Linked DNA regions of Homo sapiens: all the other regions are linked to region 1. Evidence: fine-mapped expression QTL. A gene starts in region 1. Each other region holds a variant in brackets. All regions are shown on one strand. Distances are between the middles of the regions. Region 1 holds the start of NTN4 (netrin 4). Region 2 has its middle 82 kb from the start of USP44. Region 3 overlaps SNRPF-DT (SNRPF divergent transcript).

Evidence for each region. PIP is the estimated chance that this variant, and not a neighbour inherited with it, causes the effect. A credible set is the group of variants that fine-mapping cannot tell apart.
Region 2: its variant is the best candidate, but not a certain one, in a credible set for the expression of NTN4 in breast (GTEx, PIP 0.77).
Region 3: its variant is the best candidate, but not a certain one, in a credible set for the expression of NTN4 in whole blood (INTERVAL, PIP 0.78).

Annotation. Positions count from the first base shown.
Region 1 is chr12:95,788,838-95,794,536 of GRCh38, forward strand. It overlaps NTN4 (netrin 4), which reads right to left and starts at 1,927. Exons shown (of 10, transcript NM_021229.4): 1 at 1,418-1,927. The coding sequence starts at 1,472. It also overlaps the pseudogene RNU6-247P.
Region 2 is chr12:95,629,294-95,637,067 of GRCh38, forward strand. No RefSeq gene overlaps it. Among named protein-coding and RNA genes, the nearest start is that of USP44, 82 kb to the left of the region's middle. RefSeq lists an enhancer at 3,666-4,865. The variant C/T (reference allele first, on the strand shown) is at 4,398.
Region 3 is chr12:95,847,917-95,855,690 of GRCh38, forward strand. The region is part of intron 1 of SNRPF-DT (SNRPF divergent transcript); the gene reads right to left. Among named protein-coding and RNA genes, the nearest start is that of SNRPF-DT, 7.0 kb to the right of the region's middle. RefSeq lists enhancers at 2,175-2,319, 3,098-3,242 and cis regulatory regions at 2,247, 3,170. The variant T/C (reference allele first, on the strand shown) is at 3,832.

The sequences.
Region 1 (5,699 bases):
GCTATGACTCACCTGTAAAAAATTTCAAGGAAAATCATATACTGCCTGTACAAGTATTTTTGACTTGAAACACTTGCCTTGTGATGTTTATTTACAACCTTTCAATGGCTTGCATGTTTTTGCCATAATATGGTTTGAGAAGGAAAAGGTTTTTTTTAAAGCTCATATTTTAAGAGTGCAAGAATTAAAGTAAAATCTTAGGCCTTTAATAGGTCCCTGGGAAAAATATCCAATAATTTTAAATGCCCCTAAACTCCTAAGTCCAGAAAAGATTTGAGCCAGATAAAGAATCCATGGGGCAAAATACTTGGAGTCACTCAAGGGACTATTCAATGATACTAAGGATGCTCCTGTGACTTGGACTGGTTTGGGATGCAGACTGGAAAGCCTGGATTTTGCTGGGTGCCAGCGGCCCTCAGGGAAGAGTGGAAGCCCAAGGGAGGAGATGCGTGCTACAATGTTCTGTAGCCACCAGCGCATCCCTCTAGCCCAGGCGCCCCTTTCTGAAGCAGTCAAGATCCGCACGAGAGACTGGATGTCTGCAGACTCCCTCACATCTCTCCCCCTCACCTACAGGGCTGCGCTTACGCCTAACTGGAAACCAGGTGACCCGCAAGAGGGAGGGAGAGGAGCAGAAGGGGCTCCCGAATACAGAAACCACGAGCCAGGAGCCGGTGGCCTAGGGCAGCCCAAGAAAGCCAGGATGGGAGTGGGAGGGAGAGGGCATCTGCCGACGCCGACGCCGGTTGTCCAGTTACCGAGCCAGGGAGCAGACCCGCCTCCGACCTCCCGCAGAGTCTCTGCCAGGGTACCAATTCCCCAGGGGCGGCCAGCCAGCTCAATGCAAGCCCGGGGTGATCACCACCTATCGTCCAAGCCAGGAGTCCCACTGCGTTCCAGTCACTGCTCCGGGGAGAGGGCGCTCAGCCCTGCCCCAGGTGTCCTTACCTGGTTCTCTAGTACCCAGCACCAGGTCAGGGACACCAGCGATGGGCTTCTACCAGAGACCGGCCCCAGCCCACGCGCGCCCAGGGTCGCTGGGCCACCCCTCCTCATCATTCCTTAGGCCATGAAGTGCCGGGGGATGGCGAGCTGGGTCCTTTGTTCCCTCACCAAGTGGAAAAGCAGTTTTTTAACAAGCCAAACCAAGAAAGAAACCCCGGTCGCAGTATCCCCGGCAGGGCGCACCCAGGATAGCTGGTTATCCAAGCGCATGTGTATCCCAGTTGTAAAAATAAATCAATAGTATTTGAAACTGCGGAGCCCCGGGGAAAGGAGGCGGAACATGGCCACTCATTTCACCCTCGGGAGCAGCGCTCTGCGCTCGCAGCCCTGGCTCCCCTGCACCCCCGAGTCCCGAGATGGGTTAGAGAAGCAGCGAGGGAAGGGGTGGGGGCCCCGCCGCGTCACCACCCACCTGCGGCCACCACCGTGCAGCCCCAGAGCAGCAGCAGCCGCGCGCAGCTCCCCATGGCCGGGAGGAGCCGGGAGCAGCCGGGCCGGGCGGGTGCCGGAGGGAGCCGAGACCTCTGGGCTGCGGGATGAAGCGCCGCCGTCCTCGGGAGGGAACGGGGCCCTGGTTTCTTCCTCCTCCTGGGGCGCCGGGCTCGGTCAGCGGTCGCCGGCAGCTGGGAGCCAGGGGCCGGGACCGCGCGGGGAGGTGGGGTGACCCTCGCGCACCGGCCTGGCGGGTCCCGGGCACCTGGGGGGCGGCGGGAGCCCCGGGACCATAGCCGGCCTGGCTGCGCTGCCCCGCGGAGCGGCCCTGCGGGCTCGTCTGCCGCTAGCCCGGGGCTCGGCGCCCGCAGCCGCCGCTGAACTTTGCGAGACCTTTCACTTCCCGGCCGCCGCCGCCGCCTCCTCCTGGGCGTCCTCCTCCGCTTTTCCCACCTCTTCTGGCTGCCCCGGCTCCGTCCCGTCCTTCTCCACGGGCAGTTCCATGCGATGCATTTTTATTGCACCGACGCCGCGGCGCTCCGGTGCCAGCCCTCCTCCCCTCGCACCTCCACCCCTTCCTCCCGCCCGCCCCCCGCGCTTGACAGCCCGGGCGGCGCAGCCCGCGGGATCGGATCGCCGCTGCCGCTGCCGCCCGGGGGGGGGGTCCCCCGCGCCCCGACCGACGCCCCCGACGCCCGGCTGCCCGCTGGTCCCGGTCGCCTCAGCCTGGCCCCCGGCTGCCCTGGCGCCCCTCCTGGCCCGCGCCCTGCATCTCCCTAGTGACCCCCCTGGTGCCCTGCAGCACCCACAGGCCTCCCCTGGGAAGCAATCTCCCACCTTCTCCCGGAACATTCCTAAGAGCAGTAGACTCCCTCTAGATCAGGTCAGGGCATGCCAAGGGGCTTAAAAAACCGCGAAACAGGCTAGCGCCTACTTCCCACATCCCCCAGCGAAACAAGCCCTCCCTCCTCCTCCAGCCACCCCCTCTCGGGGAGTCCCACGACCCGGGGACGGAACACCCCAACCCAGCCCCGCGTCACCCGCACTGAGAGCGCGCCAACTGCTAAGCGGCGTTCGCCGCTTCTCTGCTGCCTTTTGCGGGGGTAGGGGGATGTCTCGGCTAAACAATCGCTGCCTACATGATCCGAAGGTGTGCCCACTTTGGTGTAAGAGGTATTGCCTAACTCAAACTCAAGGTGCTGAAAGAAAAGGGTCACAGGATTAGCTAGTCGGCAGTGTAAGAACATCGTTGTCCAGAGGCAGGGCAAGGGCACGACAAAGGGAACTCTTCGGTCCTTCCAAGCGTTCTCCCTTTATAGAGTATGCCGTGCTGTGAAACAGTGTTAGGAACTAACTTATGGGGAGCAATTTAGTAGCAACCACACGCAGCTAATTGCAGATAGGATTGCTCAGGGCTGGTGCTTCTGGAAAGAGATTAAATAGCAGCCGAGTCTGAGATTTTTGCAAGTTCTGTGAAAATATAATTCTACTTACACATCCAGGGAAACTGGCAAAAGTTAAGTCGACAGCAATTTTGTATTGCAGTGCTCATTTTGTTCCTTTGAATATTTTCCAGAAAATTAACTACGTTCCAGATACCATTTAGTCGTTGTGTCTGTTACAGATGAGGATAATTCAGAGCTTTGGGATACATGTAGATATTATTTACAATGACCCAGCCAGGAACATATAAGAAGTTTATATCTCCCAGGGGGATCTGGGTTGAGGTCAGCATAATCCATTTGGGCGACATTAAAATTATTCTTCTGGCCAACAGAGGAAAGTAGCAGAAGGTGTGGACAGCAATTCATGTAGCATCACCTGCTTTAGAAAATAAACGCTTTGAGTTCCCAAATACTGGCAATGGTGGGGCTTTCTTCATATCTCCTAATGGAGCCATTGAAACACCTCTCCAATTAATCTTTTTACCAAATAAATGATAGGAAACTATAACAGCCAAAGGTTCTTAGCATAAATGTTAACTTAATAGCCAAGGCAAATTAAACAAAGGGGTGGATGCACATTTATTATTAACTTCTGAGTCTAGTATATTTAGGCAGAACTAATCCATTTCTGTTTTTTAATTAACAAATAAACTTGTATGTATTTATCATGTACAACATGATGTTTTGAAATATGTATACAGCGTGGAATGACTAAATCTAGCCAATGAACATATGCATTTTTGCATATTAACATGCATTTAAGAATACACTCACTGTCTTAGCATTTTTCAAGAGTACAATATATTGCTAAAAATATAGAATGCTTCACAAATTTGTATGCCATTCTCATGCAGAGGCCATGCTAATCTTCTCTGTATTGTTCCAATTTTAGCATATGTGCTGCCAAAGCAATCACAGAACTACTCCATATCTCATTACAAATTTCAAAGCCATTTACTGTCTGCACGAATCCTGCATTGATAATATATTTCTTTGCTGAATAACTGGCTCTTATTTCCTTTAACAAGACAGAAAGCTCTCTAATGGTAGAACAGTCTTTAATATTCAGTTTATACAAAACATTACTATGTTTTTCTGATATTTTTCCTTATTCTTAGCCAAGAACACCTACAATAAGTGTTCATTACATGTTTTTGACTGAGTTGTGTTAAAACTATTGTTATATACTAAGGGGCTAAGGAGACTAAGGACTAAGGAGAAAACCAGTTATATCACAATGATTTCCCATATTCAAAAGGAATCTGCACATTCGACACCAATACTATCTATATGAAAAGCTCAGGAGAGAAAAATAGTCAGCATTCTAATAAACATCATTTGCTTATATAGTCCAGTTTAGTTACAAAGGATATTTTCATTTTGAAGAAGCTATCCAAGAAAAGGTTACCTACATAAGAAAAATCTTGGATAAGTATATTATTGCCTATGATTTTGTTTTTGAAAACATCAGTCATGGATTCAGAATATTTTGTAATTTTATGAATTAGTAGGAAGCTTAGCAAACTTACAGAATTTCAATAACAATTCCCAGAAACCACAAAATTGATAAGTTAAATCTAGAATATTCCTGAGAACTTGAAAGGAAGTTAAAAGGGTCTTTAAAAAGTAAAATAAATGGCATAGCCAGGCGTGGTGGCATATGCCTCTGGTCCCAGCTACTTGGGAGGCTGAGGTGGGAGGATAGCTTGAGCCTGGGAGGTCGAGGCTGCAGTGAGCTGTGTTGGCACCACTGTACTCCAGCCTGGGCAACAGAGTGAGACCTTGTCTCAAAATAAATAAAATAAAATAAATGGCAAAACTCTTTGCACCAAAGACTTTACTCACAGGAGAGCCCTTCAGGACCTCACTTAAATCATTCATGTATTTTTATTAAGTTTGGTTATGACATCTTTCTAGATCACAGCCTATTAGAAGTAACAGATTAGAATGGAGCAGGATGTTATTAAAGACAGGGGATAAACTGAGGCAATCCAGTAATGAGAAGGATGGGAAAACTCTAAAAAGCAGCCATAAGTACAAAAACAAAACCAAAACATCCACAGCAGTCTGAGGCCTTCTAGTGCAGAAACAAAGGACGAAAAAGCTATAAAGGCATCACTCTCCGGTAACTTAGTAGAGTAAGTGAGGTTCCTAGTGGAGCGTAAGACATTCAGAATCAGGAGGGACCCTTGAGCCCAACTTCTCACTCCATCAAAACCCCTTTCCACAAAGCCTCTGTCCAAAGGTCATCCAGTTTCTGTTCTAAAAATCTCCATAAACAAGAGCCTCAAAGGCAATTCTGCTCATTTTTGGCACTGTTGTTCTATTTAAGTGGGATGTTTCTCTTCTTAAAATTCTGTGTTTATAGGTTAGTCATCTGCAACCATACAGAATAAGTCCAATTTCTCTTCTGGTAGGTATTCAATGATTTAAAGTAAAGTTTTAATAATTTTCATCTTAACTATCCTTTTAGTTTAAACACCCATATGACAGGATTCCCACACTTTTCACCATCTTAATCACCTCTTTTCAGATATACCCCAGCTTGTCTTACACTGTGCATGTAGAACTCAACTCCAGGTTTGTCTGATCAACATAGAATAGAACTAACATTTTCCTTAACTTAGCTCTATGGCTTATATTTCTGTAACCTAATGTGATGTTGGCTGGTATATTTGAAGTCAGCTAAAATCCTTTTTTCATATATTGGTATCTTACAGAGTCATCAATAAAAGGTAAAATATATTTTGTTTTACCAGAGGGAAATATTTCCATTAAAATACATTGCATGTAGTAAGCATTCAATAAACATGAATT
Region 2 (7,774 bases), 160 kb before region 1:
GCTTGACTTTTCCCTTTAGCTTAATGATTTTGGGACTCCAAGATTTTCCTTTCACAATTCTTTCCTGGGTGAAGCTAAGAACCCTCCTGGGCTAAACCCTAATTTTGGGGCTTGCCTGTCCTGCATCATTTTCAGCCATGTGATAGGCCCTCCCATTCAACTAGACTCCTGGCTTTACATTTTGATGAGGAATTATTATACTCAGAACACAGTGGGCCTAGTCCTAGGTCACACTCCAATGAATGCCAAAGGAAGGTTGACTACTGAGTCAAAGACAAAATAACAAAACAAGCCGGTTGGAGCTGCCAGTCCTTACTTGGCTGCCTCTTATGTTTCTCTGATTACCAGAGCCAGAATTAGCTATGAGTGGGAGACCACGCTCTTTTTCTTCACCTCCCACTGCTTGTTGATTCACGTGGGCATTTCAAAAGGATTCCCAAGTCCAAAATAATTTGCAATGAATACAAATATACTTCATTTCTAATTTTGGTCTTTTTTTTCAGTTCAGTATATGAAAATTCATTTATTTAGTGAAACCCTACATTAAAGCATCCCAACACAAAGCAGATTCGACTGTAACATAATTGGTGATTGGCTCATCTCATAGGCTTATATGATCAGTGTGTTAACATACAACAGGACTGTACCCTTTTACATGATTGAGTGTTTTGGATCTCACTCACACACAAAAACCCTGCCATAATGCTGTATCAATTAGAGCTGTTCAAATGTGAAGCTGCATTGGAAAATGGGAAACTTTATCACCATATATATGTATATTTTTTGAGACAGAGTTTCGCTCTTTTGCCCAGGCTGGAGTGAAGTGGCATGATCCCAGGTTTTATTAAAGTCTGCAAAGGGATTTTGTACCTGATAGTTAAATAAAGTAATTAAATAAATACACTTTCTTTAACTGTATGGGAACCAATATCTAAATGTGACTTTTGTACTTGCTTTCAGAAGTCACTTCTTGGACAAGATCTTGAAAGTTTAGCACCTTGGTAGTTATTTCCACAAGTGATCCTTTGGCAAAACTTACTTATACCATGGTATGGAATCAAAAGGAGCTATCTTAACCTGGTTTTCTTTTCTCTCATCTCAAAAAACCACTTCTGCTCATTCAGAATTTATCAGTATCCCTGTAATTCTTTTTAGTCTTGTTCTAAGAATTACCTGACAGTATTAATAAAGGCTGACTAGCTTTAGTTATGACTCCAGAGTTGGATTTAGCTAAACCAACCCAATTAGGCCATCAGTGCTAAGGGCAGCATCGGCCTTTCATAGTGACAACCGGCCTATCCCCTTCCTTTCCACCAGGCAGGAAGGAAACACTTTTGTCATTTCTAACCAACAAGGAAACATTTTCTGGTTGCTCCTTAACAGAAAACAGGAAATTCTGTTGGTCATTTTCCCATGGTAATCATCTAAATACCTATCTCTTGATAGATCCCAGATAATTCTAGGACTGGAAGAGAAGCCTCAGATCATATGGTCCGTTTCCATGACAGCCCTTTATACCCATATTAAAAAGTCTAAGTCGGCTCTCAGCCATCTCCTCACCATATTACATGGTATTTTCTCTACGGGAGTTCATAGTATTCACCTCCTCTCTTGGAAACAAAAAAGCATTCCTCTTACTCCTCTCTGAAGCACTGGAGAGTGTCCCCAGTATAGTATTTGATGTCTTTGCATGTAGAGGGACAGTTTTTTCAAAGCAAAAGACAGAGGAGAGGTGATGGGGAAGGAGGAGAGAAGAGAGAGAGGGAGTAGGGGAGGAGCAGGGGAAGGGGCAGAAGAAGAAGAAGAGACTGTTGCAGATAAAAAGAGACTTGAGGTCAAGCGAGGTAGCTCACGCCTGTAATCTAAGCATTTGGGGAGGCCAAGGCGGGTGAATCACCTGAGGTCAGGAGGTTGAGACCAGCCTGGCCAATATGGTGTAACCCTGTCTCTACTAAAAATACAAAAATTAGCCAAGAGTGGTGGCATGTGCCTGTAATCCCAGCTACTCAGGAGACTGAGGCAGGAGGATCGCTTGAACCCAGGATGTGGAGGTTGCAATGAGCTGAGATCGTGCCACTGCACTCCAGCCTGGGCGACAAGAACAAAAAAACTCCGTCTCAAAATAATAAATAATAATAAATAAATAAATAAAGAGAGACTTGACAGCCTTATCAGCTAACTGCAATTGATGGGCCTAGTTTAGATCTTGATTTGAGCAAAATAATTGTAAAAGGATACTTTTGAGATAGTTGAGAAATCTGCACATGGACTAGGTACTAACTAGATGATACTAAGAAATGATTGCTAGTTTTGTTCGACACAATCATTGTATTGGAGTTATGTTAACAAAAACTTCTTTTCTGTTAGGAATACAAACTGAAGGATTTATAGTTGAAATGATAATATATCTGGTATTTGCTTTAAAATATTCCAGAAAAACAAGATAAAATAAGATTGGATAAATGCTAATTACTGAAACTATGTACAATGAACTAAGATTCATTACTTGCTTTACAATTATTTGTATATACTTAAAAATTTCCTAGGATACAATTTTCCGGGTTGTTTTTTAAGAGCAAGGAAGAGCACATCTTTCTTTCATTTTTTCCCCACTGTTAATTTTTTGTTGTGATTATTCTAGTGGCAGAGAAGACATATTATTCAATCCAGGTCTTGCCTGTATTATTTATTTATTTATTTATTTAGACAGAGTCTCCCTCCGTCACCCAAGCTGGAGGGTAGTGGTGCGATCTCGGCTCACTGCAACCTCCACCTCCCAGGTTCAAGCAATTCTGTGTCTCAGCCTCCTGAGTAGCTACGACTACAGGTGTGTACCACCATGCCTGGCTAATTTTTGCCTGCATTATTTTTAATAATGATAAAGTAACTCAATAGTTGATCACTAAATCGAATAACTACAAGGCTGGTTTTTTTATTTTTTATTTTTTAGTGCTAACTACTATATTTCATGTGCTTTATATTTAATTAATAAGTATAGAGGAGGTTATTTTTTCCTTTTGCAGTTGAGGAAACTGAGGCTCAGAGAGGCTACAGTAACAACTGCAAGGTTAATAGAGCCAGCAGATGATGAAGGCTGAGATTTGGAAACAGATCTAGTTCCCAAACCTGTGCTTTTTGCACTATCATCTTACCTCTCATTCTGTTTGTGGTTTGGGGCCTTGCTAACTGGTGACAGCCAAGTTAGCTGGCAACTAAGAGTGAGTTTCTTAAAATGTAAATCAGACTATATCACTTTGCTACAGAAAACCTTCCAAAGACTTCCAGACTGAGTAAAATCCCAATTATTTTCAGAAGCCATAGGGCTCTTCCTGATCCCCTCCATCCCTGCCACCCCATGCCCCTCATCTCTTTCAACTACCACTTTGCTCGCTCTGCTGCAGCCTGGCGCAATATTCTAAGAACTTTTCCTTAACTGTCTAAGCTTCCTGCTTAGGCCCTTCCCTTGATATTCCCTCTGCCTGAAATGCTCTTTCCCAGATACCACATGGGTCACTTTCTTCCCTCTCCCCTAATTTCCTTCAGTCTTTGCTCAAATGTATTCTTCTTCTTTTCAAATACATATAATTTTAAATTTTATTTATTTATTTATTTTTGAGACAGGGTCTCACTCTGTAGCCCAGGCTGGACTGCAGTGGCACAATCTTGGCTCACTGCAGCCTCCGCCTCCCAGCCCCAAATGATCCTCCTGCTGCTCTGTCTTCAGCCTTCCAAGTAACTAGGACCATGGACGTACACCATCCCACCCAGTTATTTTTTATTTCTATTTTTTGTAAAGACAGAGTCTTGCTGTGTTGCCCAGGCTGGTCTCAAACTTCTGGCCTCAAACGATCATCCCACCTTGGCCTCCCACAGTGCTGGAATTACAGGCATGAGCCACTGCCCCCTGCCCTTCCTTATCTGTGTTCATCGCACTCATCACTACCTGACATTATTATGTACTTATTTATTTATCTATTACCCCTGAGTAGAGTGTAAACTCGGTGAGGACAGCAGTTTTTTCCATTCACTGCTGTATCCCTAGCACCTAGACCAGTGCCTGGCACACAGTAGCTGCCCAGTAGTACTTGCTGAATCACTGAATGACTCTCAACCTCATGAGTGCGGTGCTGTGAGTCACCGGGTTACTACATCATGCCCAGACTGGGCAACCTGGGGGCGCTGAAATGGAATCACCGGTAAAGATCTGCAGCTTCCTCTGTGATGTGGGTGTGGTGGGAAGATTTGCATTCTGAATCCATCATTTCCTTGCTGCCGGACTGTGAGCAAGTTTCTCAACTCTCTGTAGTCTTCGTTGTGTCATATGTAAAATGGAGATAATAATTATTAGATAATTACATAATTATCAGATAATTATGTAGAATACTGAAAAAGTTATC[C/T]AGTTCAAACCTCCTTTTTATGGTAAATCAGAAGTTCCCCCTCAGCTCCATAAACTTCATTTGCTTTCACAATCCCAGACATCTGATTAGGCAGCCAAGAGCTCTGAGAGGCCTTTGGCCGGAAACTAAGGATTTATGAGAGCCAATGTTCTCTGTCTCTCCTGTTTGAGCATGTAGATGACATGGAATAACCTCTCTGATGTATTGAATTCGTTTCTCCAGTGTCGTTTATGCTGCCAGATGATCACTTCCCAGTTTGATAAAAATCACTTCATAATGGGGATTAGATGGTACCAAAATGACAGTGGTCTCTGCTGGATCTGACAAATTCTCTCTCTCTCTTTTTTTAACCCCAAATCTCTAGTATGCCAAAAGTTTGCACAAAGGCTTATTGTTGTTATAATTGTCTAGGACTTAATAAATTAGCTATTGTCCTGAGATAACCTCAAAACTCCTGGCTAGGAGGTTAAAAACGATTTTTAAGGGAGCATAAATATGGACACACTGGTAAAAAAGTTTTTCATCCCGTGTAGCATTTTTTTTAGGTTTGAGTGGAAAGTGGTGTGTGACCACAGGAATGTACATTAACAAAAGCAGTAAGCTAATTAAATAACACACAAATGTTGTATTGTCTGGGTATTAATTCTTCAAGGTCATGTCTTAGTTTATAATGGCAAAGGGAATTTATTAAGGGAGAATTATTTGACAGGAATCTTTTTGTTATTATAAGTTACATGCAGGTTAAGATAATCAACAATATTTTTTCTATAAGAACCATAAACAAGAGAAATCCTGCAACATATACTTCTTGCTTATTACATTATGGTGTTTAGCTTACAGGAACTTGGGAGGAGATAAGAAAAAAGAAGAGAAGAGGAGAGGAGGCAAACACTCATTGGGCGTTGTATTCGTCTGTTTTCATGCTGCTGATAAAGACATACCCAAGACTGGGTAATTTATAAAAGAGGTTTAATGGACTCACAGTTCCATGTGGCTGGGGAGGCCTCGCAATCATGGCAGAACGTGAATGGCACGTCTTACATGGCAGCAGGCAAGTAAAGAATAAGAACCGAGCAAAAGGGGTGTCCCCTTATAAAACCATCAGATCTTGTGAGACTTATTCACTACCATGAGAACAGTATGGGGGAAACCGCCCCCATGATTCAATTATCTCCCACCAGGTCCCTCTTACAACACGTGGGAATTATGGGAGCTACAATTCAAGATGAGATTTGGGTTGGGACACAGCCAAACCATATCAGATGTTAAACTGGAGGTTAATGTTCTAGTCAGTTGGCTATAGCGAGAGAGACTGAGAGTTGCCCTAGTTTCTGAGGTTTAATACCTAACAGAGCAGGAAGCAAATGAGCACTGAGCCATGTGTGCACCTTTTTCCTGCCATCCTTAAACAAACATAGCTGCAGTCCAAGGGTGCAAAGGTGGGTTTGGCACTGGAGCTGGGTTTCCTGGTGACTTTACTCTCTGTCTTGGCATTTGGTCTGTGTTTATAGTCAAAGCAACAGACATGAGGTAATGAAGCAGAGAAGGGAATCACAGAATAATGACCATAACATAAAGGCACTGTTTACTCTGAACCTTTTGAAGGATGGAGGAGGATGTGAGAGTCAGCTGCATTGCATCTGCCTTGGGGTCATCTGCGGCCTAGACTTGCTCTATTCTGTGTCCATGATCACCCAGTATTACACCACAGCTATTGGAGGTCAAGGGGGCTGTGAAAAGCATGTGATGTAATCACCCTTCCAGGGATTCCTGTTGAGACTAGTGATGATAGCTGAGTGCCAGGAACTCCTTGGTAGTGGGCATAAAAAGGTGCTTAATAAATAGTTGAGTAACTTGACTCTTACGCAGCCTATAGTCATGGTCTCCATTCCTTTAAAAATATAACCCAGGGTATGGTAGGGCTACACCTGGGGAACTGAGAGACTGGGGACTAGTGTTACTAATGCATCCTTGTTTCATCTGGAGGTGACAGTAGGGATAGGATTCATTTAGGAAAGGCAAATAACACACTGAAGGACATGAGGCTACAAGAGAGACAGTGGGCCATATCCCACCTCAGGGACCCAAAGGACACAGTCTAAATGGCAGCTTCAAGTGTGACAATTTGAGATGGAGTTTTGCTCTTGTTGCCCAGGCTGGAGTGCAATGGCGTGATCTCGGCTTACTGCAACCTCCGCCTCCTGGGTTCAAGCGATTCTCCTGCCTCAGCCTCCTGAGTTGTTGGGATTACAGGCCCCTGCCACCATGCCCGGCTAATTTTGTATTTTTAGTAGAGATGGGGTTTCTCCATGTTGGTCAGGCTGGTCTCAAACTCCCAACCTCAGGTGATCTGCCCGCCTCAGCCTCCCAAAGTGCTGGGATTACATGAGCCACCGTGCCCGGCCTCCTCTACTAATGTTTTAGGGACTTACACAAGTTTAGTTCAAAAAGACTTTTTGGAAAGAGCTATGAAATATAATCTATTGCAGCAGTATGGAGACTCAGTGGAGAAACGGCTATGAGCTACCCTTTGACGAAGGTATTGCAGAGCACCTCTAAGAAGTAACTTTTTTTTTTAGAAAAAACTTCTGTTTTAGGTTCAGGGATACTCGTGCAGGTTTGTTATATAGGTAAACTTGTGTCACAGGGTTTGCTGTACAGGTTATTTCATCACCCAGGTACTAAGCCTAGCACCCAGCAGTTATTTTCCACTCCTCTCCCTCCTCCCCTCCTCCACCCTCAAAGGAGAACCCAGTGTCTGCTGTTCCCTTCTTTGTGTTTATGATTTCTCATCATTTAGCTCCCACTTATAAGTGAGAGCATGTGGTATTTGGTTTTCTGTTCCTGTGTTAGTTTGCTAAGGATAATGGCTTCCAGCTCCATCCATGTTCCTGCAAAAGACATGATCTGGTTCTTTTTTATGGCTGTGTAGTATTCCATGGTGTATATATACCATAGTTCCTTTATCCAATCTGTCATCAATGGGCATTTAGGATGATTCCATGTCTTCGCTATTACGAATAGTGCTGCAATGGAAAGCAGTGTGGTGATTCCTCAAAAAGCTAAAAGCAGAACTACCATTCAAGCCAGCAATCCCATTATGGGTATATACCCAGAGGACTATAAATCATTCTATCATAAAGACACATGCATGTGAATATTCACTGCAGCACTATTCACAATGGCAAAGAAATGACTATGAGATGTTAGTGACTAACTGCCAAGGCAACAAGGGACATCAGAGCACATGAAGCTTTGCCAGTAGGGTAGGCCATGGCAGGAGGGAACAGCATGGAGCCTGAGACTAAAGAGCCTGGTCCCTCTTGAGCACAGTAATCCAGTCTGGTTATCACAAACTGAAATAAATCCAATAATGG
Region 3 (7,774 bases), 60 kb after region 1:
TAACTGATTTAGCTCAGAAATACAGTGGATGCTAATATGCAGTAGGTGAAAGTTTGAGGAGGAATGAGATAACTACATAGCCTCAAAGTACCTTCACAAAATACTTCTTAATAATACAATTTTAAAAGGTAACTTTGCAATGAAGAAACCTGGCAGATAGTTCCCTAATCAAGAAGTTAAGGCTAATAGCACAAGTAATGGAGCCAATAGAATATATAGGCTATCTAGGGCCGGGCGCGGTGGCTCATGCCTGTAATCCCAGCACTTTGGGAAGCCGAGGCGGGTGGATCACAAGGTCAGGAGATCGAGCCCATCCTGGCGAACACGGTGAAACCCCGTCTCTACTAAAAATACAAAAAAAGTTAGCCGGGCGCAGTGGCGGGCGCCTGTAGTCCCAGCTACTCGGGAGGCTGATGCAGGAGAATGCTCTACTGTTCAGTATATTCCATTCTTTTGAGTAAGAAGGGTGGACACCCTGATTCCACCCCCCTTTTTTTTGGCATATATATATATATGTTTGAATTGGTGCAAATTTTTAAAGTCCAAGTCTCTCAAGTCAGTTATTCATTAATTTATTCATTCCAGAAATTTGCCATTATGTGCCAGGGAACTAATTATGTGCTAGTAAATGACTAGTAATAGCAACAAAGGGTTAATGAATAAAATACCTTTTTCTCTAAAAGAGAGTGTAGTTAGTGCTAAAACAGGTGGGGTAGAGCCCATGTGACAGAACAATTAGTTACCTAGGGAAGTCAGAGAAAGCTTCAGATATGAAGTGCCCATTTGAGTGGGGCCATGGAGATTAGATGAGGAGGCATTTTTCAGGCAAAGCAAATGGGGAGGGATTTCTAGGTGGTAAGAACGTCCTGTGTAAGTACGTGGAGTTGTGAGAAAAAGCATGGCCGGCGGTGCAAGGGCCAGCTTTGCGGTTCATGGGACAGAAGGGAAAGAGATGAAGGAGTTTGTTTTAGGCTGCTAGTCATGGGTAACCAACAAAGGTTACCCATATCCAACTAAAATGTCCAGGTCTTCGGTTTGTTTTGAAGGAAAGGAGGTCAGATACCTCTGGCAACAGGGTAATAGATGAGGAAGTAGAATAAGCTTTATTTTTTAAAATTGGATTCAATGGAGACATTTGAGGGGTGAAGGAGGTGGGGGGAGACTGTATGGCACAGGATACTATGGGGAAAATTCCATGAGGTTTTGTTTTGTTTCCTTTAGTGTTTTGAGAACAGTGAAGTCCTATTTGTACTGATTAACTTTGAAGTGCTTATGTGGCAAACAGAACTCTTATTCCAAATTCACCACTGCCACCCGCTGGAACCATGGCAAAAAACAGAAAAGTGTTTAAAGTCAGTATTGAACACTGATCATCTACTTGAGTGGTTTCCAGCCATTTCATCCACAGACTTCTTTTATTATCTACTCGCCCCCACAGATTGAATCTATGATTTACAAAACTCAAAGACATTACTTATTTAAAATTTGTTTCCCATTTTAATAATCAGATACATAAATAAATGCCAGTCAGAGCTTCTGACCCATGATGATCCACCAGTATTCGTATTTTAAGGTGACTTCATTCCAAGCAAAAGCAAAGACACATGAGGTCTTAGTCTATAGTGTCTTTATTAAAATAAATGTACAATTTGTTGGTTATTTTTCTTTGTTTTTGAAAATAGTTTGCAAAGCCACAACACTACCTGCAAACTGATCCAGGTTCAGGGGCCTGTGGGGCCATTGATCTCCAGTGGTCCTCAACCAGGGGCAACTGTGCTCCCCAGGGGACATTTGGCAATGCCTGGAGACATTTTTGGTTGTCAAACCTGGGTGGGGGAGGGACTACTGGCATTTAATGGGTAGAGGCCAAGGATGCTGCTAAGCAACCTATTATGCACAGGACAAGTCACAAAATAAGAATTATTTGTGGCTGGTTGCGGTGGGTCACTCCTGTAATCCCAGCACTTTGGGAAGCCGAGGCAGGCAGATTGCTTGAGCTCAGGAGTTCAAGACCAGCCTGGACAACATGGCGAAAACCTGTCTCTACCAAAAATACAAACAATTAGCTGGGCATGGTGGTGCACACCTGTGGTTCCAGCTACTTGGGAGGCAGAGATGGGGGGATCACTAGAGCCCGGGAGGTGGAGGTTGCAGTGAGCCAAGATTGAGCCATTGCATTTCAGCCTAGGTGAGAGAGAGACCCCGTCTCAAAAAAACGGGGTCTCAAAAAAAGAAAAAAAGAAAAATAAAGAAAAAAGAATTATTTGGTCCAAAATGTCAATAATATCAAGGTTGAAAACTCTGATCTAGCCCAATCCCTACAGTGTATAAAGGAAGAAAATAAGATCCAAGACAATTAAATGACTTTTTCTTTTATTTTAGTAGGCAATACATTCAAAAGTTCCAAAAATAGAACATTAAAAGGGTATGTAGGATTTGAACAGATATTTCTCCAAAGAAGATATACAAATGGCCAATGAGCAAATGAAAAGATTCTCAGCATCATTAGTCATTAGGAAAATGCAAATCAAAACCACAATGAGATACTGCTTTATAGCCACTAGCATGGCTATAATTAAAACAACAACAAAAACGGAAAATAACAAATTGTTGGTGAGAACGTGGAGAAATTGGAACCTTCATACATTGCCGGTGGGAATATAAAATGGCGCAGCTGCTGTGGAAAAGTTTGGCAGTTCCTCAAAAAAAGTTCTGTGTAAAATTATGATATGACCCAGCAATTCCACACCCCTAGGTATATGTCCAAAGAAATTGAAAACAGGTATTCAAACAAATACTTGTACACAAATGCTCATAGCAGCAAAATTCACAGTAGCCAAAAGGTGGAAACAACCCAAATGTCCATTAACAGGTGCAGGGATAAACAAAATGTGGTATATACATACAGTGGAATCATACTCATACATTAAAAGGAATGAAGTACTACTACTACAACAAGCTACAATGTGGGTGAAGCTCAGAGACATTACACTTAGTGAAAGCCAGATATAAAAGGTCACATGTTGTTTCTATTTATATGAAATATCCAAAACAGGTAAATTTATAGAGATAGAAAGCAGACTGAGGGTTGCCATGGGCTAGGAGAGAAGGAAGATAGGGAGGAACTGCTTAATGACTACAGAGTTTTCTTTTAAAGTTGTGAAAATGGGCTGGGCACAGTGGCTCATGCCTGAAATCCCAGCACTCTGGGAGGCCGAGGCAGGCAGATCACTTGGGGTCGGGAGTTCAAGACCAGCCTGGCCAACATGGTGAAACCCCGTCTGTACTAAAAATACAAAAATTAGCTGGGTGTAGTGGCATGTGCCTATAATCCCAGCTACTCAGGAGGCTGAACCAGGAGAATCGCTTGAACCCAGGAGACGGAGGTTAGCAGTGAGCCGAGGCTGCACCACTGCACTCCAAACTGGGTGACAGGGCGAGACTCCATCCCAAAACAAACAAACAAATAAATGAACTTGCAAAAATGTTTTGGAATTATATAGAGGTGGTGGTTGCAATAACATTGTGAATGTACTATATGCCACTCAATTGTATACTTTGAAATGGTTAATATGTGAATTTCATAATTAAAAGTTTTTAAAAAATGCATAGTGAAACATCTCATCATTGTCTGCCCTCAGTGTAGTTCCCACTACACCCATAGGCAACCCGTGTTCTTAGTATCTTAGGAGCCCTCCAGTATACTTATGCACATACACAGAAATGGATAGCTTGTTATCCCCTTCTTTCTCTTTTTATACAGAGGCAGCATATTTTGCAAATTATTCGGTGCCTTGTCTTTCTCAGCAATTTATCATGGAGATCTTTCTG[T/C]GGCCTTGACACTCTTGAACATTGCAGGCCACTTTGTTCCTCAATGTGGTTTGTCTGATATTTCCTGATTACTAGATTCAGGTTATGTGGCTTTGGTAAGAATATCACAGAATGCATCTTTTCTTTGCATCTTATCATGTGGCACCTGATTTTGATTTTCCAGTTGCTAACGATAGTTGTTTGATCACTGGATTGTAATAAGATGGTGTCTACCAGTTACTATAGTGAAGAAGACTGAAAATAGCCAATGTTCGAAGGGATCCTGATTCCTTTAGTGGGAAGCAGTTTCTAGAAACTAAAACCTGAGCATTAAGTATGCTCATTATTATAGGTTGATTCCTTTGATTAGTGCCCTTGTAACAAATTTCCCTTCCTGCCATTGTCCCCTCCCCTGCATTTCTTCTTCATTCCATTCAGGTTCTGACACCGTGTGCCAGGTCATTCTGCATGGACATCCTCCTTGCTTCCTTTAGGCTCTGACACTCCACAGCAGGCCACCCTCTTCCCCGCAGTGTGGACACCCTCTTAACCCCACTCAGGCTCCAACACTCCCTGTCAGGCCACCCTCTGGGGATGCTTCATCCTACTTGGGCTCCAATGGCTGGTGCTGGGCTGCCCCTCGCCATGCGTGATCACCATCCTCACCTCCTCAGGCACCAACTTCCCATGTTTGCCTGCCCTCCTATGTAGATACCTTCCTCCTCCTGCTCAGGCTCTGACACCCCACACTGGCTGCTCTCTTATGTGGATGTTCTCCTCACTCCATTCAGACCACTGTGACTACCCCCATACCCCAGCACAGGTGCATACTTTGCTTACTCCATCTAATGGTTTTAAAACCACATCTTCAGGAAGGATAGAGGAACAACCTTGTACTAACTCCTAACATCCACTACCACACTGGGAGAAAGAAACAATTATCCCTATGTCATGGGAAAATAAGCTTAGTGAGGGCGGGTAACTTACACAAGTTCCCACTAGTAAGTGTTGGGGGCAGGATTCAAACTCAGATTCGAACCTGGCCTCTAGAACCAGCATTATCAACCATTATGTTGTCAATCATATAAAACAATCATATAATGTGCTATTAAATATACTGTTTTTATTATCTTCTGCTGCCGTATATACTGCCTTCTTTTTTTGAGACAGAGTCCCATTCTGTCGCCCAGGCTGGAGTGCAGTGGTGCCATCTCGGCTGACTGCAGCCTCTGCCTCCTGCGTTCAAGTGATCCTTGTGTCTCAGCCTCCTGAGTAGCTGGGCTTACAGGCATGCACTACCATGCTTGGTTAATTTTTGTACTTTTAGTAGAGACGAGGTTTAGTAGAGATGGGGTTTCACCATGTTGGCCAGGCTGGTCTTGAAATCCTGGCCTCAAGTGATCCACCCACCTCGGCCTCCCAAAGTGCTGGGATTACAGGCATGCACCACACTGCCTGGCCTATACTGCTTTTTTAATATAACTCAATATATATGAACAAATTGTATGCATCCACTCATTTTCTGTCTCATCTGTTTCCCAGGTCCTTGATTGCTAGCTCCCTCCAGCTCCCTCTGCACTTAATGGCTAATAAATGTGGTTTTGGGTCTAGACTAATCTCTTATATCTTGAGTTATTAGGCAAACTAATTTTCTGGTCCATAAAGGGATTGGTCTCCCCATAAATATATAAGGTGCTACTTTTACATTGGTTTTACATTACTTAAACCAAGCTTTTGGGGATAATTAGATTTTGATTGAATATAAATGTAGGAGAACAAATATTTATCGAACTGACCAGATATTGTACTGCGTTGCATATATTATCTCATTTAATGTTCTTCATTTAATGTTAACCCTGTGAGAGTCAGGAGAGAACCCCAACTTCAGGTAGCAAGGAGTAAACCTGCTGTCTCTCCACAGGTGCTGAAAGGAGACAATGAGACTATGTGGATCAGAACAAGACAGTTTACTACACACAGCAAACAGAAGCATTGTCTTAGCCATGTCAGCCTCCCTTGCCCCCCAGGTCCCAAGAGGTGAAGTGATAGACCCAGACAGATAGATGTGCACAGTGGATTCCAGCACAGCTGAAGAATCAAAGCCAACAGCCCAGAACTTTTTGAGCAAGCAGCAGTTTAGCAAACAGCAAACAAGTAGTCCAATATTAGTTATTAGCATTAGTTATTGTAGGTCACATTGACCTACTCACGTGCCTACGTACCTCGCTACAGAAACTATTCAGTATCAGGAGGTGGATAAACACCACAAATATTGTATCCTAATAGCAGCCTTATAAGATGGGTATTGAACTGGGCATGGTGGTATACACCCATAATCCCAGCCACTTGGGAGACTGAGACAGGAGGATTGCTTGAGCCCAGGAGTTTGAGACCAGCCTGGGCAACATAGTTACAGCCCACCTCACTAAAAAAAAATTTTTTTAAGATAGGTACTATCATGATCATCCTCTTTATTGATGAGGAGATTGAAGCAGAGATAAGCTGCACATGGCAGAGTCAGGATTTGAACTCAGACAGTATTGGCTCCTACCCACAATACCAGGTTTCCTTTGTTGGGGCTCAGAAAATGATACCCCGAAGCATACTGCTACTTTGCACTAAAGCAGCAGCCTCAGAACCAAGGTCTGACCTTCTCTCTGACCTTCTCCCACCCCCCATCTCTTGCCCCTCCTCCTCTCCTGAAGCACAGGAAGAGACTTTTCTCTGAAGTTTCCTTATCTACCTAAAGATCCAATCCACTGAAGAGGAAAACAATTGTCTTCAATCTTCTTACTGAAATTTCATTAACCAAGGAAAATTAAACTCATATCACAGAGGAAAAGACTGAAAATCAAACACCATACCCACAGCCCAGATGAACTTTGTCCCAGACTATTGTCTGTTCCATGGACCCATTCATCTCTTGTAAAAATCACTTATTACTCTTCTAAAATTGCCTACATCCTGCATTCCCCTCTCCCCTATGCATAAGGGTATATAAACTTCTAGACCTTATTGGGTCTAGCACTACTAGAATTGGGCATTCGCCTTCCTGTGATGCTCCCATGCGCATAAATCAATTACGCTGTGCTTTTTCTCCTTGTTTTGGATAGATAGACCAATTGGTCTATTGTCTATTTATTTCTCAGACTCAAATATCAAACCTCAAGAGGTGAGAGAGGAGGTTCTTATGCTCCTACACCTTTGAGGTATGATTGTCTCTCTATAATGGTACAATGGGCTTTGAACCACCAAAAAGATTTGAATTCTAATCTAGGTTCAGTGTTTGTATGATCCAAAGAAGCTTATATATTTTTTAATCTTAACTTCTTCGGTAGACAGAATACCATATCTCTCAGGTTTGACAAAAAATATATAAAAAGCTTCCACCTGACAGCATTCAAATCTTGGATTTTTCCTCCTTTAAACCTATTCCGATCATACCTGTAGCTGATTCTGGCCATAATCAGAAAAAAATAAGATGTTGGAATTATGAGAATAAACAAAATAAAAAGAAGAGCTCATCAATTTCAAAAGTAACTTCCTAAATGCTATCCCTCTTCATTGACTGCATTAATATTTGTATTTCTATATATTTGTTTATTTGTACTCTACTTAACCACATTTTTGGGAGCGGCAGCATCGTATAAAGGAAAAATCTTAGGCTTTGGAGCCATTTTACCTTCCACATGGCTTTTGACAAAAATACATAATCTCTCTGAAGCTGTCTCCTCATCTCTAAAATGGGGATGATAATAATATCTACCTTGAAGTACTGTGAGGATTTAAATTAGACAAATTACATAATAAAATATCCTAGCATAACATGAAAGGCATTCAATATGTATTGGTCCCCTTCTTCTCAAAGAGGTTTTAAAATTCCACAAGGGCAGACATCATACATTCATTTTACTCACCTCAGTAAATATTTCTAAATCATTTCATAAATTCCTTTTTAGATGGT